Linked DNA regions of Homo sapiens. The protein of the gene in region 1 purifies or fractionates together with the protein of each later gene. This does not show direct contact. Each region holds a gene or a part of one and is shown in the gene's direction. Other genes may lie near its edges. The genes, in order: ZCRB1, RNPC3, PURA, FARS2, LARP1, STAU2 and UTP23.

What was found.
Region 2: the proteins of ZCRB1 (region 1) and RNPC3 purify together in Homo sapiens (affinity purification with mass spectrometry; 2 studies listed by BioGRID and IntAct, with this or other methods). This does not show direct contact.
Region 3: the proteins of ZCRB1 (region 1) and PURA purify together in Homo sapiens (affinity purification with mass spectrometry; 2 studies listed by BioGRID and IntAct, with this or other methods). This does not show direct contact.
Region 4: the proteins of ZCRB1 (region 1) and FARS2 purify together in Homo sapiens (co-immunoprecipitation; 3 studies listed by BioGRID and IntAct, with this or other methods). This does not show direct contact.
Region 5: the proteins of ZCRB1 (region 1) and LARP1 purify together in Homo sapiens (affinity purification with mass spectrometry; 2 studies listed by BioGRID and IntAct, with this or other methods). This does not show direct contact.
Region 6: the proteins of ZCRB1 (region 1) and STAU2 purify together in Homo sapiens (affinity purification with mass spectrometry; 2 studies listed by BioGRID and IntAct, with this or other methods). This does not show direct contact.
Region 7: the proteins of ZCRB1 (region 1) and UTP23 purify together in Homo sapiens (co-immunoprecipitation; 3 studies listed by BioGRID and IntAct, with this or other methods). This does not show direct contact.

What each region holds. Positions count from the first base shown.
Region 1 is NC_000012.12:42,311,034-42,314,248, reverse strand, and holds the end of ZCRB1 (zinc finger CCHC-type and RNA-binding motif-containing protein 1), read left to right. Parts: intron 1-262; coding exon 263-375; intron 376-483; coding exon 484-559; intron 560-1,050; coding exon 1,051-1,182; 3' UTR 1,183-2,163; downstream 2,164-3,215.
Region 2 is NC_000001.11:103,538,987-103,543,446, forward strand, and holds part of RNPC3 (RNA-binding region-containing protein 3), read left to right. Parts: intron 1-2,363; coding exon 2,364-2,489; intron 2,490-4,309; coding exon 4,310-4,460. UniProt on the Homo sapiens protein: Participates in pre-mRNA U12-dependent splicing, performed by the minor spliceosome which removes U12-type introns. U12-type introns comprises less than 1% of all non-coding sequences. Binds to the 3'-stem-loop of m(7)G-capped U12 snRNA.
Region 3 is NC_000005.10:140,120,046-140,124,505, forward strand, and holds part of PURA (transcriptional activator protein Pur-alpha), read left to right. Parts: 3' UTR 1-4,460. UniProt on the Homo sapiens protein: This is a probable transcription activator that specifically binds the purine-rich single strand of the PUR element located upstream of the MYC gene. May play a role in the initiation of DNA replication and in recombination.
Region 4 is NC_000006.12:5,544,229-5,548,688, forward strand, and holds part of FARS2 (phenylalanine--tRNA ligase, mitochondrial), read left to right. Parts: intron 1-951; coding exon 952-1,112; intron 1,113-4,460. UniProt on the Homo sapiens protein: Is responsible for the charging of tRNA(Phe) with phenylalanine in mitochondrial translation.
Region 5 is NC_000005.10:154,793,111-154,797,570, forward strand, and holds part of LARP1 (la-related protein 1), read left to right. Parts: intron 1-484; coding exon 485-613; intron 614-689; coding exon 690-890; intron 891-989; coding exon 990-1,152; intron 1,153-2,064; coding exon 2,065-2,209; intron 2,210-4,460. UniProt on the Homo sapiens protein: RNA-binding protein that regulates the translation of specific target mRNA species downstream of the mTORC1 complex, in function of growth signals and nutrient availability.
Region 6 is NC_000008.11:73,424,978-73,429,437, reverse strand, and holds part of STAU2 (double-stranded RNA-binding protein Staufen homolog 2), read left to right. Parts: intron 1-4,460. UniProt on the Homo sapiens protein: RNA-binding protein required for the microtubule-dependent transport of neuronal RNA from the cell body to the dendrite.
Region 7 is NC_000008.11:116,769,027-116,772,816, forward strand, and holds part of UTP23 (rRNA-processing protein UTP23 homolog), read left to right. Parts: intron 1-1,165; coding exon 1,166-1,340; intron 1,341-2,429; coding exon 2,430-2,816; 3' UTR 2,817-3,790. UniProt on the Homo sapiens protein: Involved in rRNA-processing and ribosome biogenesis.

The sequences.
Region 1 (3,215 bases):
TTAAATGTTTGAAAGAAGACTACTACCACTACTCTTAGTAAAACTACTAAATAGTCCTAAATGTTAAAATAACTGAGAGTTATAATATCACCTTCTAAATATTAAAGTACTGGGTTTTATCATTAATGTCTTCTGTATAGTCCCAGTATGGGAATATTCCTTTTTAAATTTGAAAACTTTTTAGTAATAAGGTACCAGGCAAGTTTTTATAAATAACATCAAATATGGTATTTTTCCTTTCCTTTTTAATGGGAAACAAAAGGAAAGTGGACACTTAAGTTATGCCTGTCCGAAAAATATGCTCGGAGAACGTGAGCCTCCAAAGAAGAAAGAAAAAAAGAAAAAAAAGAAAGCTCCTGAACCAGAAGAAGAAATGTATGTATATTATTCTTACTAAATACATCATCATGTTGCTTTTGTCTTTTGGTTGGTTGCTTTTGATTATTGGTTGGTTACATTCCAATTTGTTTTTCTTTATTTAAGTGAGGAAGTAGAAGAAAGTGAAGATGAAGGGGAGGATCCTGCTCTTGACAGCCTCAGTCAGGCCATAGCATTCCAGGTATTAAATTGTTCTTTTAAAAGGCATCATACAATAGTTGACTTGGTTTATAGTGCTTGCTTACTTCATTGATCACCTCATGGCAACCTCTCTTTTTCCCCCTAACCTCCTAAGCCTTAGGAGACAAGCTGTTTCTCTGAGGTACTTAGCCAGTGTGAATGAAAAGTTCCCATTGGTTCTTCCTAGATTTTAAGGGCCCCACAACACTTACTATCTTAATCTTTTTTCATTAAAGAAATGAGCAGAACTATTTGCTCAAAGTGAATATAGCCCAACAGAAAAGATTTTTTTAAGAAATTGCCTAGGATAATTTTGTGTAAGATTTTGAGATGAGACAGAACTCAGGGGAAGGGAGCAGATCTTATTGTCTGCATGGACTGGGAGGGTGGGAAGTAATGGCATTTGTGGTATGTTTTTGCCATGTTTTGAATTAATGAACCATAAATAATATTAAACAGGTTATTGGTTTTGTTTTGTTTTTTGAATCACAGCAAGCCAAAATTGAAGAAGAACAAAAAAAATGGAAACCCAGTTCAGGAGTCCCCTCAACATCAGATGATTCAAGACGCCCAAGGATAAAGAAAAGCACATATTTCAGTGATGAGGAAGAACTTAGTGATTAAAATCTTGCCCCAGCACAGTAATAAAAATCAAGATTTGTTAGTAACAATCTTGAAGAGCTAATTTTAATAAAAATAAGAAAAATTAATACTATCATGTTAATACTATTATTGTCATCCCAAGAAAAAAGATATTTTAAAAATTTATTTGAAAAGTTCATTATAAGGGCTTTATTCATGCCTGATTTGTTTACATGAGGACTTCTGAAATTAATCCTTAAAACAAACTTCCTGAAGACCGAAAAGTTGAATGATTTATTGTTACTTATATTAATAAACTTTTCAAGAGAATTTTGTCTTTAAATATGGGTGTTTTGTCATCATATTTCTTGTAGCTTTATCCCAATCTGGATAAATTGTAAATACCTATAAAATAAATTATAAATACCTATAAAATATAAAGTAACATAGCTCTAAAAGGCTTAAAATCAAACACAGGTGTTATTTGTCTGCCCTACCCATAGCACCAAATTCCATTCCCTAGAAGAAACTACTTACATGTGCACACATGTAGCTAAATAAAGTACATATATTTCAGTCACTTAATAAAAGAATAAAGGAGAATTATTCAATCTCTTATACTTCTCCTACCTTCCTCAATATTCCCAATGTGGCTGTATTAAAAATTTGGGGGAATCCATATATATCTTTTTTAATAACCAAGTAAATACTTTTCATTTCTGAGCCAAGGAATATGCTATGATTACGTTTTTTCCTAGAGTTAATAATTGTCTATTTTTTTTCCATGTATTGTCTTTGTATTTATGACTAAATCTTCCCATTCTGTCTGCAGGTGGGTATATGGTAATGGGATTAGAGAGCCTTTAATTTTCTGCTTTGTATATTTCTATATTGTTTAACTTTGTAAGAATGCCCATTACTTTTTTAACTAGTAAAAGCAATAGAAATAAGTTAATACTATCATAGTAATATTATTATTGTCATCCCAAGAAAAAATATATTAAAAAGATATTTGAAATTTCATTATAAAATCTTGTGTTTCCACTTTGAAAACTACAAAGTGTTAACCACCCACCAGCAAAGAATCTTCCAGATTGCAACAAGACAATGATTGAATGCAGTACTCAACCATCTGTTTGGCCATTAGTCAAATACCACAACAGTTTTGGTTTGTTTTTTTTTTTTAATTTTTATTCATTTATTTATTTTTGAAACGAAGTCTCACTCTGTCGTCCAGGCTGGAGTACAGTGGTGCGATCTCAGCTCACTGCAACCTCCACCTCCCCGGTTCAGACCATTTTCCTGCCTCAGCCTCCTAAGTAGCTGGGATTACAGGCACGTGCCACCACACCCAGCTAATTTTTGTATTTTTTTAGTAGAGTTGGGGGTTTCACCATGTTGGTCAGGCTAGTCTCAAACTCCTGACCTTGTGATCCACCCGCCTCGGCCTCCCAAAGTGCTGGGATTACAGGCATGAGCCACTGTGCCCGGCCTACCATTTTAAAGCAAATAATTGGGAAAAGATTTGCCACAAATATATAAAAGTTTCTATGAATACCTGAAAACAGACTCTAATAGGAAATAAATTAGTGACAAATAGAATAGTTAGAAGATAAAATAGGCCAGGTGTAGTGGCTCATACCTGTAATCCCAACACGTTGGGAGGTCAAGACAGGAGGAGTGTTCGAGGCCAGGAGTTTGAGCCCAGCCTGGGGAACATAAGGAGACTGTCTTTACAAAAAATAACATTAGCCACTCACACCTGTTGTCCTAGCTACTTGGGAGGCTGAGGCGGGACAGCCTGGGAAACAGCATGATCCTGTCTTTAAAAAAAAAAAGTAAAAAAGTTTATCATTACTTATTAAGGAAATCTATTACAACCAGTGATACATCAATTTTAACCTAATTAGGAAAAAAACACTTCAGTGTTGGTGAGGATGGCATTAAAAGCACTTGTGGTATCGCATACATGCCCTGGATCAATTCTGAAGGGTAATTTAACAATAAATATCAAATGTTAAGTATGTTCTATTTTTTTAACTAGAAATTACATTCTATTTTATCCTAGGGTTCTA
Region 2 (4,460 bases), on another chromosome or scaffold:
TGTGGTCTCTGTTGTGGCTACTCAGTTCTACCCTTGTAGTAGGAAAGCATCCATAGATAGTATACCTAATGAGTTGGTGTGGCCTTATTCCAACTAGACTTTAATTACAAAAACAGGCAGCTAGCTGGATTTGGTCATTGAGCTGTAGTTTGTCAACCCCTGTCTGCAGGACTCTAATGGGAAAATGATCAAAATCTTAGGTGACTGTGCACGGAAGAAGTGGTATATAGGAGGTGTGAGTGGTTGGCATGAGGCAGAACCCAAGCAGACTCTGAGCAACATATACAAATAATCGCAATTTGACTGAGTCAGTGTCCACCCAAGTAGTGGTACAATGTGCAGTATATTATCTTTCTAAGGGAAGAGTTAAAATCAAAGCATAGGTGGGGCTGAAACTATAAAATGGGAGTGAATACACTATCTGTCTTAAAAAGAGACATTTAGGGAAACAGGCAGTGCCTGATAGATGGTTACTTTAACTTGTTGAGTGTTAACTGCGGACTAATTACTTAACCTCTGTGAACTTCACTTTCTTTATAAAAATAATGATAGTAATTAGAAATGCTACAGTAACCTGGCCAAACCCTTTTTTGTTTGTTTACTTAGGTTTCCATTAAAGGATGTAGTGAGGAATTCTGCCAGTAATTCATCTTGAGTCCTGAGAGAGAACATAGCCTTTGAGTGTACCAAGCTCTAGTTTCATGCTTCTCTTTTATCTTCAGGAAATGTAACAAGACCTAAACAAAAGAAAAATGGTACAGGTTGAGTATCTCTAAACTAAATCTGAAATCCAAAATGCTTCAGACTCTGTAATTTTTTGAGTACCAGTATGATACCACATATGGCTGGCTTAGTGACACCTTTGCTTGTTTTCTTTCTTTCTTTTTTCTTTTTAAGACAGGGTCTTACTCTTTCGCCCTAACTGGAGTGCAGTGGTACAGTCATGGCTTACTGCATATTCAACCTCCCGGGCTCAAGCAATCTGCCCGCATCAGTCCCAGTAGCTGGGACTAAAGGCATGTGCTACCACACCTGGTTAATATAATATTTTTCATATTTTTGTAGAGATAGGGTTTCACCATGTTGCACAGGCTGGTCTCAAAATCCTGGGCTCAAGTGACCCGCCCTCCTTGGCCTCCCAAAGTGCTGGGATTATAGGCGTGAGCCACCATGTCCAGCCAACACTTTTGCTTTCTGATGTTTCCATGTACACAAACTTTATTTCATGTACAAAATTATTAAGAATATTGTATAAAATTATCTTCAGTCTTTTGTGTATAAGTTGTATATGAAACTTAAATGAATTTCGTGTTTAAATTTGTGTCTCATCCCCAAGAGATCTCACGTATATGCAAATATTACAAAACTGGTATACTTCTGGTTCCAGCCATTTTGGATAAGGGGTGCTCAACCTGTACTATTCATTTATTCAGCCAATAATTACTGAATATATGCCTAGCACTCTTGTAGAGGCTTGGTGTACTTTGGGTCAGCAATTTATAAATATGGACATATACTTTGAATAACTAAATTTTTTCATAAAGTTTTTGGTAAACCATGGTTTTTTAAAAGGGTTTAAATTACAGCATATGTTTTCATTTTTCCTCAGGGAAAAAAGGTTTAAAGCTTATTTGAACAATGCCCTCCTTCCTCTCTTTTGTATTTTGTTGTGTGTGTATTTTACAAATACCACCCTGAGAAGTAGAGCTGGGACTAGCGGTTTCCAAGTTCCTGCTCTGTAGATGATACAGAAATGCCTAGACAAGATCTATCTTTAATATTAAATATTCATATTCTTAATAGAGAAAAGCTATGTACAGGTGTTGTCACTTCCTGAAACTACTTCAGAGCATAGTACAGTATTTGAAAACAGTTCTCAGGTAATTTAAGTTACCTTATTTATATAATGATTTGCAACAGTTATTCACAAAATGCTTTTAAATGACATATTTCAGTCCAGGCTCCGTTTAATAATTAGAATATGAATAAAAATGATTTAAGAACATTAATATTATATCGATTTTATTATTGTATCTTGTTCAGCCGTTTGGCATGAAGTCCAGCCATTTTATTTCGGCAACTGCTTATGATGAAACATACATTTTAAAAATTGATAATATGTAATTAAGTCTATTTTTAATTTTTTCTAAGTAAGATGAAAGCTAAGCAAGGCAATTTAGTATTTGAGCTTTTATCAAATTGATTATCTCTTAATTGATGGTGTTCTATATATTTGATGTAAGTAAATCATTTTATAATTTAAATTATACACCAAAATACAAATTTAACGTTAATAGAAACAGTGGTAAATAGCTATGCTTCTAGAAAGGAAATTTTGTTTATCATCCCTCTCCTCATTGTAGAATGAACAAATTAATGGAACTAGCAAATCTTCAGCCCAAAAGACCTAAAACAATAAAGCAGCGCCATGTGAGAAAAAAGAGAAAAATAAAGGATATGTTGAATACACCTTTGTGTCCTTCACACAGGTAATTTTATTTGAACTAAGAAATGAGGGTTGTCTGTATGTACTTTGTTTACTTGCTTAATTCACATCATTCTTCATTCTGGCATTTGTTTCCTGTCAGTGTTCTTGGTTTACATTGGCTTCCTAGTTACCAAATTTACAAATATTCATAATTCTCTCACAGTTGACCACTACTCTCTTCTCTGTCGTAAGCCTTAAGGTATTTGCTTCCAGCTTCCTGTCTGCAGACTCAGAATATCTTATAGGCACTTAAGATATTGTCGAAAACAAAATTCATTTACTTTCCTTTTATCATTTCTTTTCTCTTTCTCCTCGTGCATTTACAGTTTTGTTAGTGACATTACTGTCACTAGTGTAATATATTAGTGAATAATGTCACTAATATAAACATCAGTGTGTTTATATACAGTTATTTAGTTTCTCTTAACTCCATCACCTGATATCAAACATTTTTTACTTAAAAAGTACCCAGCAGATAAAAATTCACATATCTTTACTTGGCACACAGGACTAACCCGAGTGCCTTTAAGTATTTATTGAGTGTATGGTAAGGTTTTCTGCTAAATATTGTGTGTAGTTTGAAGCATGCTTTTAAAGTTTAATGCTGTCTTTTCAAACAGTGAGTTAATAGTCTTAAGTATAATAAGCCAAATGCACAGATGATTATTGCATTAGCAATTATAATACATGACATAGGAAATATAAACTAAGAACTAAAAGGTTGTGAGAAAAGAGAGGTCACAGCCAGTTGAGAAATTTGAAAAGGTTGTAAGAGAGAGGAGATATTTGAGCTGGCCCTTTAAGGAGGGGAGACAAAAATTAGGCAGGGAAACTGTATCCTATGTGAGTGGAAGAATAAAAGGAAAGTTTCCAGAGGTAGGAAAATGTATTGAATAGGAATAGAAATGATGAAAGGGAAAGCTAGAAGGATGTGAAACCTCCCCTAAATGTTAGGCGATGGAGTTTGAATTTATTGAAGAAGCCATTGGAATGCCATTGATATTTTTAAAAATTAAGAATTCCTTTTGCACTACTTTATCTTGTAATAAACTTCCTAAATAATTTGCAGATTTGGGATAAGGGTCAGACCGTAGTTATCCAAGAATGTTAGTAGATATACCTTACCTTTCCACTGTGTTTTGGACATTTTGTTATAGTCCAGAAGTTGCCAGTAAAATGATACTTGTTTTATACATGTTTGATTTGGAGTATTTTACCTTTTTTTCCCTTTGAATCTTTATAGTGACACTGAACAGTAGAAATTAATGTGAGCCACATTAAAATTGTATGAAAACATAATGTAAAATATCTTGATAACTTTTTATATTGATTATATGCTGAAATAATATTTTGGATATAATGAGAAATAATACGTTATATTATCAATATTTCATCTGTTTCTTTTCATGGTTTTAATGTGACTATTGACAATTTTAAGTCATCAAAGTCTAATATTATATAGATATGTTTAAAATATCAAACATAGAATGCACTGTTTTGCATATTAATAAATATCCTGGTGTTTAGAATCAAGAGTCATCAAATCCCTTCTCTGTCATTTACAGAATGACCTTATACAAATTATTGACATCGCTGAACCTCGGTCTTTTTATGTGTAAACTAATAATTTAGTAGTACCTATATTAGAGCATTAAAGTTTATTAAACTAATAAGTCTAAGTCACTCACTTTATTGAATATCAAAAGTGTAGTGAGTCCTTTATCAGTGTTAACTTTTAAAATTTAAAATAAACTTGAAATAATATTTTACTCAGGATTTTATTTGCAATTACAAACTAATGCTATGATTGTTTTTAAATAGCAGTTTACATCCAGTGCTGTTACCTTCAGATGTATTTGACCAACCACAACCTGTAGGTAACAAAAGAATTGAATTCCATATATCTACCGACATGCCAGCTGCATTTAAGAAAGATTTAGAAAAGGAACAAAATTGTGAGGAAAAAAATCAT
Region 3 (4,460 bases), on another chromosome or scaffold:
TTGAGTATCAGAATGAGACCTTGCTATCTATGTAAAAGGATGCTAAAACAAGGGCATCTGTAGCAACTTAGGTTTGGAATAGTTGGTGATGACTCTGAGTATAACATTTATAGTTTATTATCCCTAAATTTGAATATCTTCATAATTTGGAGAGAGATGTATACACACACATACACATATATATGTATATATACATTGTGTGTGTGTATATGTATATAGATACACACATCTCCTTGAGAGTGGAATAAGTAGGAGAGATAATTTATTGGAATTGCTTACATAGATAAATTCACCAAAGTTATTTGTGTAGATTTGTTAAAGTGTATCAATTTTTAAATCACAATATTTCTGTTTTCTTCATTGCATATTAACCAAATTTTGGCCATTCATAAGTATGCTATAAAACTAAAGTGATCACTGCTATTCACGAATTATTATAGAATCTTCTTTGCAGATTTTGTGATATATTAAGAAAAGCTGATTTTAATATTAATATTTAAGAAGTTATTTGATCCTGAAAACCTAAATTTAAGGTATAGGCCATTTGACACGTCCTTTTTGAACAGAAATTTCATTACAGGCTAAGTGAAAATAAGCCAGAATTAGCATGAGTCAGGTAGAATTTCATGATAAAAGAACAACCAGATGAAATAAGAAATAATGATTGGTTTCAAGCCAATGAATCTGCTAAGCTAACTACCAAGTTTTGATGTTGAATGGTCCAGGCAATTTATGTCTTTAGGAAAGCTGAGTGTGGCAAAGGTCACTTGTTAACATTTTTCTTAACAAGAATGTCATAACTACTCATTCATTTTTATTTTGTCCCCACGTTTGGTATTTGTTTTGTTTTGTGTTTTTCCTTCCTGATGTCCTTTGCTTTTGTGGAAGATTGTCCTGTTGATAGGCAGAAACATGGTGGTGATCCTCTATGTAAAATATAGTTGCTTCTTACACATCAGAAGTATTTCACTCATTTTGGAATCACAGGATTTTCATGTTTTCATAAATACACACATTGTTTTGATAATTATTAGCAATTAGCTTATTTTGTAGCATTAGATGGAAAAATGTTTAAGCTAAAGAGTTTAATTTTCTTGATTTTGGTTCCACTTTAATAATTCAAGAGGCCTCCAAGTTCAAGGACCAAGTCCTTCTATTTTAGAATTGTGAAAAACATGGAAATACTCTTGTTAGTGTGTGTTTTGGTCTAAGGTAGATTATTAACACAGAAGGATCCTAGGAGGATTTAAGAAAATATGTCCTTATCGTGAAGTGGCAGTTAAAGTTATGGGACAGGTGAATTACCTATTCATCTTGACTAGCTCAAACAATGATAGCCATCAGCTAATGACTTATCAGACACATGTTGAGTTTGGGTCAAACTCCCATTCAGCTGGAGTGGATTGGCAATTTTAAATGCAGGTAGTTGGTGGTGGTACTTGACCTACCTCCTTACCATGTACATCTGGCATCTTCTCTCTCCTATCCTTTTTCTTTGTTTCTCTCTCCACTTTTACTCTTGCTGTAGGCCTACCAGTGGCACTCAAGCTTACTTCTTCAGAGAGAAGTAAAGAAATTTCTGACTCCTGCCTTAGAACATAGCTAACTGATGATCCAGAACAATTTCAGTATTATGAGGTAACTGGGCAGTTTTTTTCTGATTGCTATTTTCCCCATAGTCTTAAGCTGGCAGTTTGAAGGTATCTAAATTAATGTTAAGAAACTTGTGAACTGAAGAGAGTAAGAAGTATGTGTATTTTAGGTAAGTTACTGGGAACTGAGACTTACTGGTTTGGAAATTGGAGAGTAGGACGAGGAGAGCTGTTTAATGTGTTTGTGGATGGGGGTTTGAGAGGTATATAGAGAATGGTTTGGAAATAAAGTGAGAGGAATTTTTACTAGAGGTAGGAAAAGGTACTATGATGGAGTCCGAATGAGAGTTATTTGCTAAGGAAATGAAGTTGATCTTCACTAAGGAAGTTTCAATAAAGCCAGAGAAAATGGGTCCCTCATTGATTATGAGAAAGCTGTTAGTTACTATAGCTAGAGTTATGATAATGATCATGCATTATACAAGTCTGTTTTCATGTATAGGATGTCTGCTTTTCTGGGACAAATTAGCACAATTGTGGAATGACAGCTTTTCTGGTCAAGGCAAGTGGATGCTGGGGAGTTATTATTTTGAGGAAAAGAAAATTTCAAGCTTTTCACCATTATTCTTTTTAAACTATCAGAAATATTTATCACACATACTATCTATTTTCTTGGGCTCTTGTTACAATGTAGTTTACCTTTACTTTTCAAATGGTCCTTAGATCAAATTATTTGATTTTGTACTCCACAAAGACACATATTATTCCTTGCTTTTATAGAATTTTGAGACTTTGGCCCACACAAATTTCTTAGAAGACAATAAACCAGGTAAAAACACTAACTTGCAATTTTAGGTGTCTTTTTTATTTCTTTTACATTTGCATCCGTAGCAACCATTTAACCTTGTAGACCTTATGAGGCCCTCAATAATACTGTATTTCTAAAATTAGACAACATACCCCCCAAACTCATGTTTCTGTTTCCCTACTTTCTCTCTTACTTTAAAATTGTAGTATTCCCAAGAGTTCAGTGGTGGCAAATGTTAATAAAATAAGTTAGTACATTTTGGAGGTTCTTATATCCTTTGTAGGGTAAGCTGATAGTGTTTAGATTTCTGTTCCCATTATTCCAGTAGTGTTTTAAATTATTTAAGATAAATAATTACTGTAATGTTTGTTTTTAAGTTACATAATTCAAGTATGTTTGGATTAACTCTTTGTTGTCAAATTTAGTATGGATTTATTCCTGGTGATTTGGACAGATTACTTTGAAGTTTCATTTTACTCACATCTCTATATATTAGTGATAAAAATCTCTTTTAAAAATAGCAAAAAAGTGGTTCTGATTTTGTACTTTGAAGGTAATTTTTCTTTTTTACGAATGTCAGGTTCATTAACAATAGCAGGATTATTTTTACTATAGCTTATTTTGTAGAGTTGGCACTTTAGTATAATTTTCACATTTTATTGTGTCAGATTTTAAATTATAATAGTTATATACTATAACTCATTTAAGTCAATGCAAAGCCTTCTTAAATAGCCCCTCCCTTAGAAATTTGTTTAAAAAGAAGTGAATTCCCAAACCTGTGTCAAGAACTTGTGATTTAAATGACTGTGAGACAAGTCCTTGAAAGGCTTAAGTCTAGTCAGTGGAGATAAATGATAGCCCATTTCCATGCTGCATATAGTTGTTAGGGTTTATAAAGTTGTCAATGTGTAAAAGTGCAAAAGCAGGAAAGACTAAAGTTGCCTGTAAAATTTCTAGTTTTCATTATTTGCACTATTTATCTTTGCACTTGATTTTTTGAAAGTTAAGGCTAGTCACTTTCACTTTTGTTTCTAGTCTTTTCTAATTTCTTGCAGAATTGTGTTTTCAATATTCCACCCAAAGCAAAAATTATATGCAATTAAAAATATTTTATAAGGCCAAGAAAATATTTCTTAATGTTAGCTGTATAAAACAAAAATTTGTTCTGATAAAATTTTTAATATGGGCCTTTATTTGCCAATAAAATCCTTTGTAAATGTGAGCTTTATTAAACTGTTTAAATAGACAAAGTTAAAGCTTAGGATAGGGAATATATATGTATGTGTATATGAAATGATGTCTTCGAGTTTTAACTTCCAGCCTGAGATGGCCTAGATTTGGTGTGTTAGTTTGTTTCACTGAAGTCAGTGAGATAGGAGTCTAGCTGGGTACATGCTTAAAAAGCTGGAAGTGAAGTGGGTGGCAAGTGGCAGCTCCCTCTTTCATGTAGTTTTCCATAATGTTCATATAGTTTCCTTATGGTCTAAGTGTTACAACTGGTTTTCAAGTTGTTATATTGAATATTCCTTTTTGGAATTCAGGGTTGAATCACTTTGAGGGGGAAGGGAAGCAAGGGCAAGAGACTTTATTTTAACCAGATGCGGTCTTATGACCTCAAAGATGTGCTCTAGAAAGAAAATAACAAAAAGTGTACCTGTGAACATATTTTTTGTCTTGGTGATATTATGCAACACAGTGTTCAGAATTGCAAAAAAATTTAAAAATTGATAGTTTTATCAATGGAACAGAGAGATGTGTTTTTGGCTAAAATTATTTTTTGTAAGTTATTTGGTTATTTCATTTTATATTCCCTTTCCCATAGCTTTGTACACACCTCATACTTAAAACCAAGTGAGAGGCCTCTTTTCAGATCTGGTTTATTTTTGGAATGCCTGAGTGTGTTTCCAGATTGGGGGGGGAGAGGTGGTGTTTTACTTTTTGACATGCTCTTAGCATGTTTTGCTAGTCATTCTGGATCTTATGTTTGCAAATTCTGTTGAACATTCAGTGATGTATTTGAAATGAGAAAGTCCTTTATAACATAGTGTGAATGTTTGTGG
Region 4 (4,460 bases), on another chromosome or scaffold:
AATCGGCCAAGATGGAGTCCTAGATAAAAAGTAAAGCAGTCACAGGCTTAAATTCCCATTGTGTTCCTAGATCCCACCCATACTCAACGGGAGGAGTTTACACAAGGCATGTGCATGCGGGGTGGGAGTCTCCGAGGCCATCTCAGCCTACCACAGGATCCTACTCATCTGTTAGTGTCCAGTTGGAATTATATCCTTTCATGAGCTCATTTCATAAGCTTTCCTGCAGTGTGAACTGCTCCTTTGCCTGCCTTCATTCTGCAGTTTCTATCTTCCCTTTTACACTGCCTCAGTTTGTGAAGTAAACCCTTCTAATTTATGGCACTGACACAATCTGAGCAGGACACTGTACCTTTGGAGTAGGTGGTGCTAGTTATACCCCTCGTCTGGGCCTGCTTGTGTTCTCTGCAATGCTGAAGTGGCTGTTGGTAAGAATAAGCATTATGGTGTTTAATAAAACTGAGGTTCTTAAAGGCATGACGTATGTACTTTCTTCATGTAAGTTCGTTCTAAACATGTTATGGCCACTATGGCATGTTTTGAATGTATCTCATTATCTACTACACTTAAGGACAGAGACCGTCTTTTCTTTCCACTCTGTAACCTATATTCAGTGGGCTAAATGTTTGAATCAGAGCAAGCAAAGACTACAGAAAAATCATAACTCAGTTCAGGAACCAGTGCTTCAGAAAGCCTAGAATGTAATCAGAAATGAAAGACAGTACTCCAGACAGTATGACTTCAGAATCCGTTCATGAGGGCAGTCCGGAATATGGAGATGAGAAAGCGTGGAAGATTGGGCACCCTCATGGATGTCTTTGTAGCGGCTGCCCAGTGCCTTTGCCCGCTGGTAGGCATCTAATTAGTGTCACTGATAACTGTCAGGGAGTGGTATGAACCTATCCAATCTCGATACTTTTTAAAAACAACTATTTTGTTTCCTAATCACAGCTGGTGCTCAAGACCGAATCGGCTGGGCTTTTGGCCTAGGATTAGAAAGGCTAGCCATGATCCTCTACGACATCCCTGATATCCGTCTCTTCTGGTGTGAGGACGAGCGCTTCCTGAAGCAGTTCTGTGTATCCAACATTAATCAGAAGGTGAAGTTTCAGGTAAGATGACTTGCAAGAACTGAATAGATAATAATAAAAATGGCTGTCAAGGATCGACAGGATCATGTACTTGAAAGCCACTGAATTTTATTTTATTTATTTTATTTTATTTTCATTTTACTTTAAGTTCTGGGATACATGTGCAGAACGTGCAGGTTTGTTGCATAGGTATACGTGTGCCATGGTGGTTTGCTGTGCCTATCAACCCGTCATCTAGGTTTTAAGCCCCACATGCATTAGGTATTTGTCCTAATGCTCTGCCTCCCCTTGCCTGCCACCCCGCAACAGGCCCCGGTGTGTGATGTTCCCCTCCCTGTGTCCATGTGTTCTCATTGTTCAACTCCAACTTATGAGTGAGAACATGTGGTGTCTGGTTTTCTGTTTCTCTGTTAGTTTGCTGAGAATGATGGTTTCCAGCTTCATCCATGTTTCTGCAAAGGACGTGAACTCATTCTTTTTTATGGCTGCATGAATTTTAAATAATGTGAATTTGTAAAGAAGTTCTGGCCAGGCATGGTGGCTCATGCCTTTAATCTCAGCACTTTGGGAGGCCAAGACGGGTGGATCACCTGAGGTCAAGAGTTCGAGACCAGCCTAGTCAACATGGTGAAACCCTGTCTCTACTAAAAATACAAAAATTAGCTGGGCATGGTGGCACGCACCTGTAGTCCCAGCTACTTGGGAGACTGAGGCAGGAGAATCACTTGAACCCAGGAGGCAGAGGTTGCAGTCAGCTGAGATCGTGCCATTGCACTCCAGCCTGGGCAAAAATAGCGAAACTCTGTCTCAAAAAAAAAGAAGTTCCTAAATAGAGGTCCATAAACACACAAGGGGTTCATAAACCTTCAGAAATTTTATGCAAGAGAAAAGATATTTGTCAATATTATTAGTCTAAGCAGAGAACCAATTTTGTACTTTTTTTTTTTTTTTTTTTTAGACAGAATCTCACTCTGTCGCCTGGGCTGGAGTGCGCGATCTTGGCTCACTGCAACCTGCGCCTCCTGGGTTCAAGCAATTCTCCTGCCTCAGCCTCCTGAGCAGCTGGGATTACAGGCGCCCACCACTACGCCCAGCTAATTTTGTGTATTTTTAGTAGAGACGGGGTTTCACCATGTTGGCCAGGCTGGTCTCAAACTCCTGACCTTGTGATTCGCCCGCCTTGGCCTCCCGAAGTGCTGGGATTACAGGAGTGAGCCACTGCGCCCAGCCCTCATCTAGTATCTTTTCCAACAATTCTACTCCATTCATTTTTCAGAATGAAGCTGCATATATGTTAGACCATTTGATCCTATGCCATAGAACTCTGATGAAAGGTTTTTTTAATTAACGATTTTCTTTTCCTGTGTGCTTTATTTTTGATAATTTTTATTGTCTTCTCTTTGGGTTGCTCATCTTTTTTTTTTTCCTGTTTTGTCCAAGTAACCATTAAGCCCATCCAGTGAATTAATCATTCCCCAGATAACTGTATTTATCAATTCTAGAATTTGCATTTGCTTCCTTTTTAGAGTTTTCATTTATCTACTGAAATGCTTGATTTTTTCATCCATTTCATCCATTCTTCCTTAAATTCTTTCACATATTCATAATGGTTATTTTATTTTATTTTATTTTATTTTATTTATTTATTTTGAGACGGAGACTTGCTCTGTTCCCCAGGCTGGAGTGCAATGGCATGATCTCAGCTCACTGCAACCTCTGCCTCCTGGATTCAAGCAATTCTCCCACCTCAGCCTCCCGAGTAGCTGGGATTACAGGCATACACTGCCATGCCTGGCTAACTTTTGTATTTTTAGTAGATACAGGGTTTCACCATGTTGGCCAGGCTGGTCTCAAACTCCTGACCTCAGGTGATCTGCCCATCTTGGCCTCCCGAAGTGCTGGGATTACAGGTATGAACCACTGCGCCCGGCCTCATAATGGTTATTTTAAAGTACTTGTCTGTTAATTCCAACCATTTGATTATCTAGTGTTCTTTTGTTGTGGTTGTTTTCCCTTCCTAATCATGGCTTACATATTTCCTGCTGCTTCACTTGTCTTTTTGTTTTTTTTTTAATTGTGTTTGAATGGACAAAGACTGAGGTAGATAAAATTTATCCCCAGAAAGTCTTATGCTTTCTACCTTCTGGCTGCTAAGGTGACTAGGCCAGATCTTTTTGTTCTAATCAGGAGTTGAGTTGAATTTCACATCTGCTTTCCTCTTGATGGTGAGATCTAGCCCTGCAGCAGAGTTTGGGATCTAACCATGTGAGATCACAGGATCTCTTTCTGCTTTCCATCCACTTACCAGCTTCTTCCACCACCAGCGTTTGTAAGCAGAAATATTATGAAGGAGAATTGGCTGGCAGTGAGGGTTAGCTCTGTTTCTCCATTTTCCAATCTGCCATGCCAGCCCATGCTTGGCTGACGCAAGTGTGGCTCATTCTTCTTATTCCAACAAAATGTCTTTGCCAGTAGCAGGCTAGCTCTTCTGCCTACTCACGCCCCAGTGGCGACAGCAGCCATCAGTGTCTGTCTACCCTAGAAGGGCTCATCTCTCTCTGGAGTTATACTTATTTATATTTGTGTACAGACCTTTTCAACTGTATTAGTCCATTTTCATGCTGCTGATAAAGATATACCCCAGACTGGGAAGAAAAAGAGGTTTAATTGGACGTACAGTTCCACATGGCTGGGGAGGCCTCAGAATCATGGCGGTGGGCGAAAGGCACTTCTTACATGGCAGCAGCAAGAGAAAATGATGAAGAAGCAAAATCAGAAACCCCTGATAAACCCATCAGATCTTGTGAGACTTAATCACTATCACGAGAATAGCACAGGAAAGACCGGCCCCTGTGATTCCATTACCTCCACCTGAGTTGCTCCCACAACATGTGGGAATTCTGGGAGATACAATTGAAGTTGAGATTTGGGCGGGGACACAGCCAAACCATATCATCAACTTTAAGGACAGGTATGATTTTTATGAGTGTATTTTGTTATTGTTATAGTGAAGCACACTGATTTTGTGTGTGTGCCCATCTGCATCTTGAACCTTTCTATGTATATATGCATATATTTTTGGTTTTACCTTATGAGGACTTTTAAAAACTTCTACTTGAATAATTATCTGTTTTATTTTAGCATCAATTTCCTTGTAGACTAATTTGAAATAAAGCTGTATCTAATTTACAATAAAACCTGGCTAGGGCTGTAACTTTTTCTCATTCTCTTTTTAATATATTGTCAGTTATTTAATCAGCAAACATTTAAAGAACACCAACATCGTGTAGAATGGTGTGCTCAACACCATGGTGTGACAAATAAAGATGAAAAACACAGTTGCCACCAGAATTAAGTGGCTTAAATTCA
Region 5 (4,460 bases), on another chromosome or scaffold:
ATCCCTTCAGCTTGCTGTGGTACACCGGTTCTTCATATCATCACTGATGGCTTCCTATTTCCTTCTTCTTCTAGCTAGGAGGAAAGGAAGAGGGAAGGGTGGCCCCTTTCCTTTTAGGGACTCAACCTGGAGTTGGTTACTTCAGCTTAGCTCTCGTAGGCAGTGTTTTGGCACCTGTCTATAGGGACTCTGGAAAGCATGGTCTTCATCCTGGGCTGCCATGTGTCTGACTCCAGAAGGGGATTCTGTGGCCATGGAGACACTGATCTTGGGAGTTAACGAGGAGTCTCTAACACACTGACGGCCACTGACCAGCTTATTTTAGAGATGAAAAAGAGGGCTAATGTGTGGGAAAGGGATCTGCCCAAGGTAACCAGATTGTGATTTGGGCCCAAGTCCAGGGCAGAAGAAGAGGAGTTGGGTAGAGCTGGCTAGGAGTGGCCTCTCCCTCAAGCCTTTCTCATGTACCCATGCTGTCTCCCAGGAAACAAACACAAGTGGGTTCCATTACAAATAGACATGAAGCCTGAAGTGCCCAGAGAGAAACTGGCTTCACGCCCCACTCGCCCACCGGAGCCTAGACACATACCTGCCAATCGCGGAGAGATCAAAGGTATGCACTACCCACTATGGAGGGCCTGGACTTGGGAGACACCCTCAGGCCTGACCTGGTACCCCTCTCCCCATAGGGTCTGAGTCTGCCACCTACGTGCCCGTGGCCCCCCCCACCCCAGCCTGGCAACCAGAGATCAAACCGGAGCCTGCCTGGCACGACCAGGATGAGACATCGAGTGTGAAGAGTGATGGGGCTGGTGGGGCGCGGGCTTCCTTCCGTGGCCGTGGACGGGGGCGTGGTCGCGGCCGGGGACGCGGCCGGGGTGGCACTCGAAGTACGTGAGGCCCCTTTGGGCTCCGGGATGTCCAAGGGTGTGCAGCAGGGGTGGTGGGCAGGAATCTCCTCTCCCTCATGGCACCCGTTTCCCCCATAGCCCATTTTGACTACCAGTTTGGCTACCGAAAGTTTGATGGTGTGGAGGGGCCTCGTACGCCCAAGTACATGAACAACATCACCTACTACTTTGACAATGTCAGCAGCACCGAGCTTTACAGTGTGGATCAGGAACTGCTCAAAGACTACATCAAGCGCCAGATGTGAGTGTGCGGAAGCCTTCTTACCCTGGAGAAATGAGTGAGAGGTTAGGGGTTGCTAGAGTGTCATAGCTGGGCAGGCCCTTCTGGTGCTTAGCAGCAGTTTCAGCCTCAGGCTGAAAAGATAGCTTTTCTCATTGTTTATTAAAGAAGTGATACCACATTCTCATTGTTTATTACAGAAGTGGTACAACATTTACCTTAAGAAAGTTAGAAACTATACCATTACAAAAAGGAAGGAAAATATTTAGAATCTACCCCCTTCTGTTCTTCCATTTGTAATGACAACATTGACAGAATACTAACATTTATTGAATCCTTAGTATCGGCCAGGCTCAGTGTTTATTGTTGTAGAGGCATTATCTTAGTCCTGCAGTTCTTATCTGTTGAATTCCTATGAGCTGAGTCTTTTAGCCCCAGTTTATAGACAAGCAAACCGGCCCAGTAATTTGCACAGAATCTCACAGCTAGTAAGTAACAAAGCACAGATTTAAATCCTTTTCTGTCCTATTATAGAACCTTTGTTCTTAACCACTCTGATATATTGTCTCTCAGTCCAGTAAGGAAGTCATACAAGAAAATAAATGGTTGCAATAGAGTGTTTATAAGTGTTTTAGGAGCAGAAGAGAAAGTGACCAACAATATTTGGACTGGAATTTAAAGGAGGATGAGGAGTTTGACAGGCATGTCGAGGGGCTTAGGGCAGAGGGAGTGATTTGACCCAAGCAAGGTAGGGTGTCATGAAGGGATCACATCATTTCTTTTCAGCCCTCAACACTGTTGGTATATAGGATAAGGATGGGGTAGGTCAGAGGCTGTGTGAGATTGCTGGGGTGTGTAGCAGAACAAGGAAGGCATACTCATAAAACTGATGCACCAATCCCTCGGTGATAACTACTTCTTCCCTCCACTTAGTGAATACTACTTCAGCGTGGACAATTTAGAGCGAGACTTCTTCCTGCGAAGGAAAATGGATGCTGATGGTTTCCTACCCATCACCCTTATTGCTTCCTTCCACCGAGTGCAGGCCCTTACCACTGACATTTCACTCATCTTTGCGGTATGTCTTCCTCCCTGGAGCTGGGATGCAGGGGAAAGAAAGGTCCTTAGGGAGCTGGAGTTTGGGCCAAGGCAGAAAGCCCTGGAAGAGTCATCATCTGATGACTTCTGCTGAAGTCTCAAGGCTTGGCTAGTCTCCTCCTCTCCCTCCTTCCTTCCTTTCTCTCCCTCTCTTGCTCATTATGGAAAATGTCAGACACTTAACAAAAGTAGAGTAGTATAATGAGCCCATCATCAGCTTCGGCAGGTATCAGTTTATGGCTAATCTTATTCCATCTGTACCCTCATCTGTTTATTCTCACATACTACATTGAAGAAAATCCTAGAAAACCTAGCATTTTGTTCACAAATATTTCAGTATAGATTTCTAAAAGATAGACTTGTTAAAAGAAAATAGCCACAGTATCATTATCATACCTAAATTAACAGTTTAACATATTAACAGTTCCTTAATATCATCAAATATTTAGTTCAGATTCATCCCAATTGGCGCCATATATATATTTATATATATATTTTATATATATTTATATATATTTTATATACATTTATATATAAAATATACATTTATATATATTTATATATTATATATTTATTATATATTTATATTTATATATTATATATTTATATATTATATATATTTTTATACATATTATATATTTATATATTATATATTTTTATATATATTATATATTTATATATTATATATATTTTTATATATATTATATATTTATATATTATATATTTATATATAGTATATATATTATATATATATTTTATATATTTATATATAGTATATATATTATATATATTTTATATATTTATATATTATATATATATTTTATGTATTTATATATTATATATATATTTTATATATATATATAGTTTGTGAGAATCAGAATCCAAATAATACCTATAGGCTGGGTGCAGTGGCTCACACCTATAATCCCTGCACTTTGGGAGGCCAAGGGGAGGGTCATGTGAGCCCAGGAGTTCAAGATTAGCCTGGGTAACATAGCAGGACCCTGTCTCTACAAAAAACTAACAAGACCTGTGTATTGTCTTATTAAGTCTCCTCTTGCCTCTATTTTTCTTTTTCTTTGCCGTTTATTATTTGAATAGACTAAGTTGTACATCCTGTAGGATTTTCCACAGGGCACAGGGATGTCATTTTAACATGTTCATCTGTACTCCAAGTTTTTTGTAAATTGTGATCTAGAGGCCTGATCAGATTCAGGTTTTGAAGTTTTTTCCCCTCCTTGTCAAGAATACTTTATCATAATGATGTATTTTCTCTCAGGTGGCACATAACATTTCATTTGATTGTCTCTCTTGTGCTATAAGCTGCCAGCAGTGTTCGTTAGGATTGCAAAATGACAATATACTAATTCTGTCAGTCGGTCTTCATTTATTAGGTGGAATACCTCTTCAAGAAGTAACTTTGCCTCATCAACTGTTCAGTTACCAAGAGGTATAGTTTGTTCAGGAAGGGCAGATTAATGTTTGATCTTCCTCCCTTTGTTAGCCAGTTTGCATAATTATGAGTTGATCTCTAATAGGTTTCATAGGTGACCAGTGAGATTTGGTGGTTTGTTTTCGTATCATTTGTTATTATAAGCTTATGGGCTCAAACGTATTTATTTTGGTCCATTGCAGTTAATGGATTGGATCAAATTGTCCCACCTTTGGTCAGTGGGACCCTATACATTTCCTGCCCCAGATCTGGAATTGGCCACTTTTAAAAGGAATTCTAGTTCCTTTCTTTTGGGAAATGGTATTTAGATACCAGTCTGAGTTATAGGGGTGCTTTATTGCTACTTGGTTGGTCATTCTTTCTAGATGATTTTTTTGTTTTTTGGTGAGATAAAATACATCATGGAGTTATTCTGTTTTGTTGTTGTTGTTTTTTTTTTTTTTTTTTTTTTTTTTTTTGAGACAGAGTTTCACTCTTGTTGCCCAGGCTGGAGTGCAGTGGCATGGTCTCAGCTCACTGCAACCTCCACCTCCCAGGTTTAAGCAATTCTCCTGCCTCAGCCTTCCAAGTAGCTGGTATTACAGGCATGCACCACCACACCCAGCTAATTTTGTATTTCTAGTAGAGATGGGGTTTCACCATGTTGGCCAGGTTGGTCTCGAACTCCTGACCTCAGGTGATCCACCCACCTCGGCCTCCCAAAGTGGTGGGATTACAGGCATGAGCTACCGCGCCCGGCCTGTTCTGGTATTTTCTATTAAAGGGTCTTTACGTAGAC
Region 6 (4,460 bases), on another chromosome or scaffold:
AAAAAAAAAAAAAAAAAAAAAAAAGACCTGAGCAAGAATATAGATTGGTTTCAAATCTCTGCTCTGCCACTTATTAGCTGTGTGACCTTAAGTAGGTTACTGAATTCTCTGAGCCTCTGTTTCCTTATGGGTAGGAACTATCTCACAAGGCTGTGATAACAACTCAGGTCATGGCAGGTAAAGGGCCAGTCCCATGACAATGGCGGAGTGATGCTCATCGAATGGTAGCTATTACTGTTTACATAGGTTAAGATAAATCGGTCACCACTGCCTCTTATAAATTGAAAAGAAATCCCTCTCATACTTATAAGCTATTGTATTCAGGGTTATCAGTGAGATGTGGGTTGAGTTATCTGATCAGGTAGATAAGGGACTGCCCCTTGGAAGCTTTTAAGCATACCTGTGGAGGAGAGCAGCCACGCAAGAATTCTGAAAATCCATTCGTGGCATCAAGTGAGAGAGCACGCCGCCATTCCAGACTCTAGGACATTCTTGGAGGGATGACGATCATTTTGACAGTGCACGGGGGACCTGCCTGGCATGTTGATAAAATCGTCCAGGAGATTTTGCAAGAGCTAAAACGCTGAAGCTGCTCCCTGAGACCTGGCCTTCGTCTCATATATGCAGTTCTCTTCAGATGGAAGAGAGCAGGTGCCATGGGTCCTGGACTGGGTGAAGCAGGTCATTTGGTTCTGGTGTTCAGGCCACACTAAGAACCAAGTATTCCCAGTGTACCTAGTGAAAACAGGCTATAAGTAGCCTAAAAACGATTTTTTAAAAGATTTTTAAAAATTGTTTTTAGTTGTTGTTTTGCCCTTGCTAGGAATAAAACAGGACCGAGAAGCCCTAGAGCTCGTAGGAACCCCATTCAGCAGTATCACATTGCACAGTTCCATTTCCTGGCTCTCAGTAGCCCTCTGTGATGGTGCTTTTGGGATCCAGCACTGTCACATCTGGGTATTTACCTAAAAAGTTTGAAATTTGTGTGTCAAGAGATATCTGCACCCTCATGTTTATTGCAACAGTATTCACAATAGCAAAGATGTGGGATCAACCTAAATGTCCATTAATGGATGAATGGAAAAAGAAAATGTGGTATATAGACACAATGGAATATGTTCAGCTTTTAAAAAGGAAGAAATTATGTCATTTGCAACAACATGGATAGAATTGGAGAACATTATGCTAAGTGAAATATGCCAAACATAGACAAATCCCACATGTTCTCATTTATATGTGAGATATAAAACAATTGAACTCCCAGAAGCAGAGAGTACAGTGGTGGGTACAGAGGCTGGGGGTAGGTGGAATGGGAAAATGATAGTCAAAGGGTACAAAGTCTCAGTCAGATAAAAAGGATAAGTTTGATTTTTTTGGACATCTACTGCACAGTGTGGTGAATATAGCTAACAGTTGAGTACTGCACATTTTGATATTGCTCTGAGAGTATATTTCAGGTGTTGTCATCACAGAAAATGTTAAATAATTTATCATTATGTTACAAAAAATAATAAAATTTCAAATGTAATTGTCCACTTTGGAAGAAATTCATAAATTTCAGAATTTATGCCAATAATTCACATTTTAATGGCTCAGAAGAAAAGTAACTGGTCTTTTGTTAAAACTGTTGAATATACAAAGAACTTGAAGTTCATGAGCCCACTCCGTGAAAATGGGAATATCTGGAAAAAGGTCTGGCATGGATTGGTCCTTGGAGCCTACAAGTGAGTGAGCCTGGCCTTTAGCGCCCCACGCGCATGTGTGAGGTGGGACAGTGGGCCCCGGTTGATGGACACAGGCTGTGGGCACATGCACTGCCCTCAGCATAGCCGCCTTAGCACTTCAGGACTTAAAAGGACCTCAGAGTCACTGAATCAAAGCTCCCTGAGAGTCAAATTCCTCTGTGAATTCCTTTCTTGCAGGGAGGGTGGGGAGAACTGTCCAAACCTCAGTCTTTTGAGGGTGAGTTTAATTTTTGAAAACAGCAAAACTTCAGACAAAGCCAAGTCTAGTGAAGAAGGTCAACAACCAGGATGAACACATTAAAATAAGGTGGGGCCAAAAGATGACAAAACTGGTTTGCTTCTCTGACCCACAAAATGGTTCTGAGAGGTAATTCCAGAAGCACCTAGAGTAACACCCTCCTCCCACTGCTGCTGCCGGCACAACCTCTCCAAGGGTGGATAGAGAGCTCATATTAACATCTTTAAGGCTGGGCACAGTGGCTCACGCATGTAATCCTAGCACTTTGGGAGGCTGAGGCAGGCGGGTCACCTGAGGTCGGGAGTTCGAGACCAGCCTGACCAACATGGAGAAACCCCATCTCTACTAAAAACACAAAAGTAATCTGGCGTGGTGGTGCATGCCTGTAATCCCAGCTACTCGGGAGGCTGAGGCAGGAGAATCGCTTGAACCCGGGAGGCAGAGGTTGTGGTGGGCCGAGTTCACGCCATTGCACTCCAGCCTGGGCAACAAGAGCAAAACTCTGTCTCAAAAAAAAAAAAAAAAAAATCTTTAAAAATGGACATCATCTTTGGCTCAGAAATGCAATTTTAGGAATTTATCATAAGGAAAGTATTGAGATGATGCATAAAGATTGAACCAATAGGAAATTTGATGCAGTGTTGGTATCACACAGGATATCGATAGGATACTGTGCAGTCATGAGAAATGATGCTACCGAAATGTTTCTGTTGATACTGCACACATTCAATGAAAAGAGCACACAACAGATGAACGGACAAAAAACCATGGTATATGTATACAATGGAATACTACTCGGCCGTAAAAAAAGAATGAAATCCTGTCATTTATGGCCATGTGGATGAAACTGGGCGAATGTGAAGTGAAATGAGCAGGGCACAGAAAGTTAAACACCACTTGTTCTTGCTCATGTGTGGAAGCTAAAAAGGTTGATCTTACAGAAGTAAAAAGTAGAACAGAGGATATTAGAGGTTGGGAAGGGTAGGGGGAAGAGAGGGATAGGGAGAAATTTATTAAAGGATACAAAATTATAGCTAGATATGAGGAATAAGTTCTATTGCTCTATACCACTGTAGAAAGACTATAGTTAACAGTAATATGTTCTATAGTTTCAAGCAGCTAGAAGGAGAATATTGTATGAACCCAACAAAAAGAAATGATAAATGTTTGAGATGATTGATGTACTAATTACCTTGATCTGATCACTATGCATTATGTGTATTGCAACATTGTTACCCACCCCATGAATGTGTACAATTATTATTTATCATTGAAAAAAAAAAAAGCAGGTTACCTACAGTGTTAAGACATGATCCAGGCTACAGTTTGTAGACATGGGGAGAGGATACTAAGTGATATGGAGGCTGGGGGCAGAGGCGCATGCCTGTAATCCCAATACTTTGGGAGGCTGGGGCAGGTGGATCACTTGAGGCTAGGAGTTCAAGACCAGCCTGGCCAACATGGTGCAACCCTGTCTCTACTAAAAGTACAAACATTAGCTGGGTGTGGTGGCTCATGCCTGTAATCCCAACTACTCAGGAGGCTGAGGTGCAAGAATTGCTTGAACCCAGGAAGTGGAGGTTGCAGTGAGTCAAGATCACACCACTGCACTCCAGCCTGGGTGACAGAGTAAGACTCCATCTCAAAAAAAAAGAGAGAAAAAAAACAAGTGATATGGAAAGACGTGCGCCAAGATGTGAATGGTGAGCAGGATTGTGGATACTTTTTACATTCTTTTTGCTTGTCTATATATTCTGACTTTTCTGTAACAAAAAACTATTTTTATAACAAAAAATAATACAGGGAGAGAGAGAGAAGAGAGAGAGAGAGAGAGATTTTGCTATCCTTAAAGAGAAGCTATGAGGTCCCTGTACAGTTTGCTGGAGCTGCTGTAGTAAAGTACTACCAACTGAGTGGCTTCATCAACAGGAGTGTATTGTCTCACAGTTCTGGAGGCTAGAAGTTCAAGATCAAGGTGCTGGCAGGGCTGGTTCCTTCTGAAGGCTGTGAGGGAGAATCTGTCCCAGGCCCCTCTCCTCACTTCGAGTGCTTTGCTGGCAATCTTTGGTGTTCCTTGGCTGCTGCGGCATCACTCCAGCCCCTACCACCATCTTCACGTGGCGTTCTCCCTGTGTGGGTCTGTGTTCCAGTTTCCTCTTTTTATAAGGATACCAGTTATATTGGATCAGGGACCTACCCTACTCCAGTATGACCTCATCTTAACTAATTACATCTGTACTAATCCTATTTTTAAATAAGGCCACATTCTATAAGGCCCCATTCTGAGATACTGGGGGTTAGGACTTCAACATATGAATTTGGGGGAAGAGCACAATTCGACCTATAACAGTATCCAGGGAGATGGCCACACAGCTCCCACCCCACTGAAGTTAGCGCCTACCTCCCATCAAAACCCACCTGGCTGTTGTCCAGCATGAGCATGGGCCAGGATCAGGAGCTATGGGGTGGCATCACTG
Region 7 (3,790 bases), on another chromosome or scaffold:
TCAGGTCATTCGTTTTTCAGTGGAATATATTTCTTGGCCACTAGTAGTTAGGTCTCTACAGAGTTTACTGATATTCAGGTTTGAAGATGTGTGGAGTTAATTGATGAAGTAGAACAGCAGAATGTTATCAGGCCTGGGTTTTATTTTAGAAAAGATAACTGCAGTGATGTGAAGGGTAAATTGGAGAAACAAGAGAGCAAAGGCATGAATCTGTTTTGCGGTTGTTTAATCAAGAAGTAAGGGGAGCCTAAACCTGGGAGAGGAAAGGCAGGAACCCAAGGGTTCTCCAAAGAAACGCTACGTTACTGAGATAGATAGGTTGAGCAGCTGATGGCATAGGAGTATGGGTGAAGAAGGGCAGGAAGGTCAAATGTGATTTCTGATTTCTATCTAGGGTGTCTGGGAAAATAGTAATTTCAAAGAGATAGCAAGTCTTGGAGGATAAATTTGGATACAGGAAAGTGGTTTGATCTTAGACATGGTGAATTTGAAGAGTTGATAGCAGGACATCCACAGGCTGGCAGTACTCAAAATAGAGGTCAAGTCTAATGACTAAAGCAAGCAAAATCTTCTTGAAACAGAAAGATGATAAAGGAGATGAAGCAAGAAAGAATCTGGCAAATGCTGGCTAGGGTTGAGGAACTCTTATGACTAAATGTTTTTTTAAAAACAACTTGATGATGTGAGAAGTTTTACTGTTCTGAATTGAAAATGTTTTGAAAGTATACCAATTTGTACTTGAAGCAGAAGCTTATTACGCTATGGTTGGGACAAGGGAGCTGTTGTCAAACTGCAAGTCTCGGTACCACTTGCTAGTTACTTGAACTTTGGCATGTTACTTGAAATCTCAGAATGGGGTGCTCTAAAATAAGGATAATTTCAAGGTAAGCGACCTAACTTCATAGGGTTACTTTGAGATTAATCAAGAATTTATGTAAAGAGCAATTTGCATACTACATGGAACATAATAAGTGCTCAGTTAATTTTAACTGTTGTTCTTCCTACTTGGTAAATGCATTTTTCAAGTGATCTTTTAAAGTAAATGGTTACCAGATGACAAATTTAGATTGTAACAGCATAGTTTTATTTTAAGAAAAAATCGACTATTGTTTTTTACACCTTATGTAAACAAGTGAAATGTATCTGCTATAATTTTTCTTTTCAGATGTGTGTTAAAAGAGCTAGAAACATTGGGAAAGGACTTATATGGGGCAAAACTGATTGCACAAAAATGCCAAGTTCGAAATTGTCCTCATTTCAAGAATGCAGTGAGTGGATCAGAATGTCTGCTTTCCATGGTTGAAGAGGGAAATCCTCATCATTATTTTGTGGCAACACAGGTGATACTACTTTTAAAACCACAGGCAATTTTCACCATTTCTATTTATACTTCATATGGAGCTATTTATAATCAGAAAAAAGTTAGAATGATTAGACTTTTAAAAATACAGGCTTCTAAGTTAATTTGCAGTCAGTAAAAGCAATTGTCATTTGAGAATTTGAGGAAAACTTTAAGCATGTTGATATTCTTTTTAGTAGTGGAAGGTTGGGTTTTGTTTTTTTTAATGATTCCTTTGTTTTGCTTTTTTTGTTTGTTTCTTGAGACTTGAGGGTCTCACTATATTGCCTAGGCTGGTCTCGAACCCCTAGGCTAAAGTGATCCTTCCACCTCAGCTCCTGAGTACCTGGGATTACAGGTGTTTGCCATCATGCTGGACACTGGCAGAAGTTTCTTTTTTTAAAACAAGAAATTGTTGACATGAGATGTGATGATTTGTTGTAGGGTTCTTGAAGGGAAGATAAGTAGAGCAAAGTGCCTGTATTCTGTTAATTTTTTTCATGTTCCTGTATTTCATACTGTTTCTCAAAGTCATGGTTCATACTGCTTAAGACTGTACCAACAGTATGAAATATTTCAGGCTTTTGAAGAAAAATATTCCCATCTTCTTGAAGGCAGGAGAAGAGAGACTTTTGGGGGTGATATTAAGTTCACATACATACAGATTTGATTATCAGAATTATAAAATTACACAGAGGTAGAGCTGAATTTAGAATCTGAGTAGCTAATTACTACCCAGTTTCTTTTCCTTTAACCTCTTTAAGCATTCTTGACCCTTTCCAAAGAATATCTTAGAGTGGAAACAGGAGAAACCCACCTAACACATTTACCTTTGCATTAGTTTGTAATTTGTGGCTCTAGAGTATCGATAAATCCGGTTCACACAGCTGCTACTAACACTGTGCTCAGTTTTTATGTTTTTCTTCCTTTATCATGAAATATACCCCCATTACTCAAATGAATAAGTGAGGCTTACTCATTTGAAAAATAAAATCTGTGATCTCTTTTATTTTTAATACAGTTCTTGAAAACCTATTTAAGGTACCTTAATTGACATTTGAACTAAATAATTCTGTTTTCTTTTAAATAGGATCAGAATTTGTCTGTGAAAGTAAAAAAGAAGCCTGGAGTTCCTCTCATGTTTATTATTCAGAACACTATGGTTTTGGACAAACCTTCTCCCAAAACAATTGCCTTTGTAAAAGCAGTGGAGTCAGGTCAGCTTGTCTCAGTGCATGAGAAAGAAAGTATCAAACATCTCAAAGAGGAACAGGGTTTAGTGAAAAACACTGAACAGAGTAGAAGAAAAAAGCGCAAGAAAATAAGTGGTCCCAATCCTCTTAGTTGTTTGAAGAAAAAGAAAAAGGCACCGGACACACAATCATCTGCTTCTGAAAAGAAAAGAAAAAGAAAAAGAATTCGGAACAGATCTAACCCAAAAGTACTTTCTGAGAAGCAGAATGCAGAAGGAGAATGAATCCTTTGGATACTTTCAAGGACATTCAAATGTGAAAATGAATTTTTTACAACTAGAAGTATTTATAATAAAAGACCAAACTTATTTTTGTAAATGAACCCATATGCTTTAGCTAAAATTAATTATAAAATAAAAACAGTGACCAGTCTAGCCAGCATGGCAAAACCCCATCTCTACTAAAATACAAAAATTAGCTGGGCATGATGGTGCACAGTTGTAATTCCAGCTACTCAGGAGGCTGAGGCATGAGAATCGCTTGAACCTGGGAGGCAGAGATTGCAGTGAGCCCAGTTCGTGTCACTTCACTCCAGCCTGGGCAACAGAGTGAGAACATGTCTCAAAAAAAAAATAAAAACAGTGAATGGGTGTAGGTGTGATGGAATTCACTTTACTTACTAAATGGTTTCGGGAGGTTGTTTCTCCAGGTAAAATTGTCGCCTCTCTGGTCCCATTCCCACCTTCAAACATTATATGCAAACAGTTTTAAAAAATCTTACAGTTCTAAAAGGCTTGTGACAAAAAAAGAGGCAGTCCCTCTTTCACATTGACAGAAGAAACTTCCTCTTTCAATTCTAGTAGTTGAAGAATTTATATTTCCAAATTGTATGATTATACCGCTACTTTTTGATACATCAATTATTTATTGACTTCCTACTAGAAAGAGTGAAATTTTGCCCATTTATACTGCACCATTTTTCCAGTATATGAATATTTTACTCTTTGTACATCAGAAACTCAGTATTTTCATTATTATGACTAGAGTTTTTTTGTTTGTTTGTTTGAGTTCTACTTGTCCAATAAGGATGATGATTTTCTTTTAGATGTAAATGTTAACTTCAATAGCAAGAATTCAAAAATAATATTCTCTTTGAGATTGACTGTGAATGTTATTGAAAAGTGTCTAAATTAGTCTGAGGATCAATGAGGGTCAATTCAGTTAGGAATTGAATAATGAAACGTGTCTCTCTGAATTC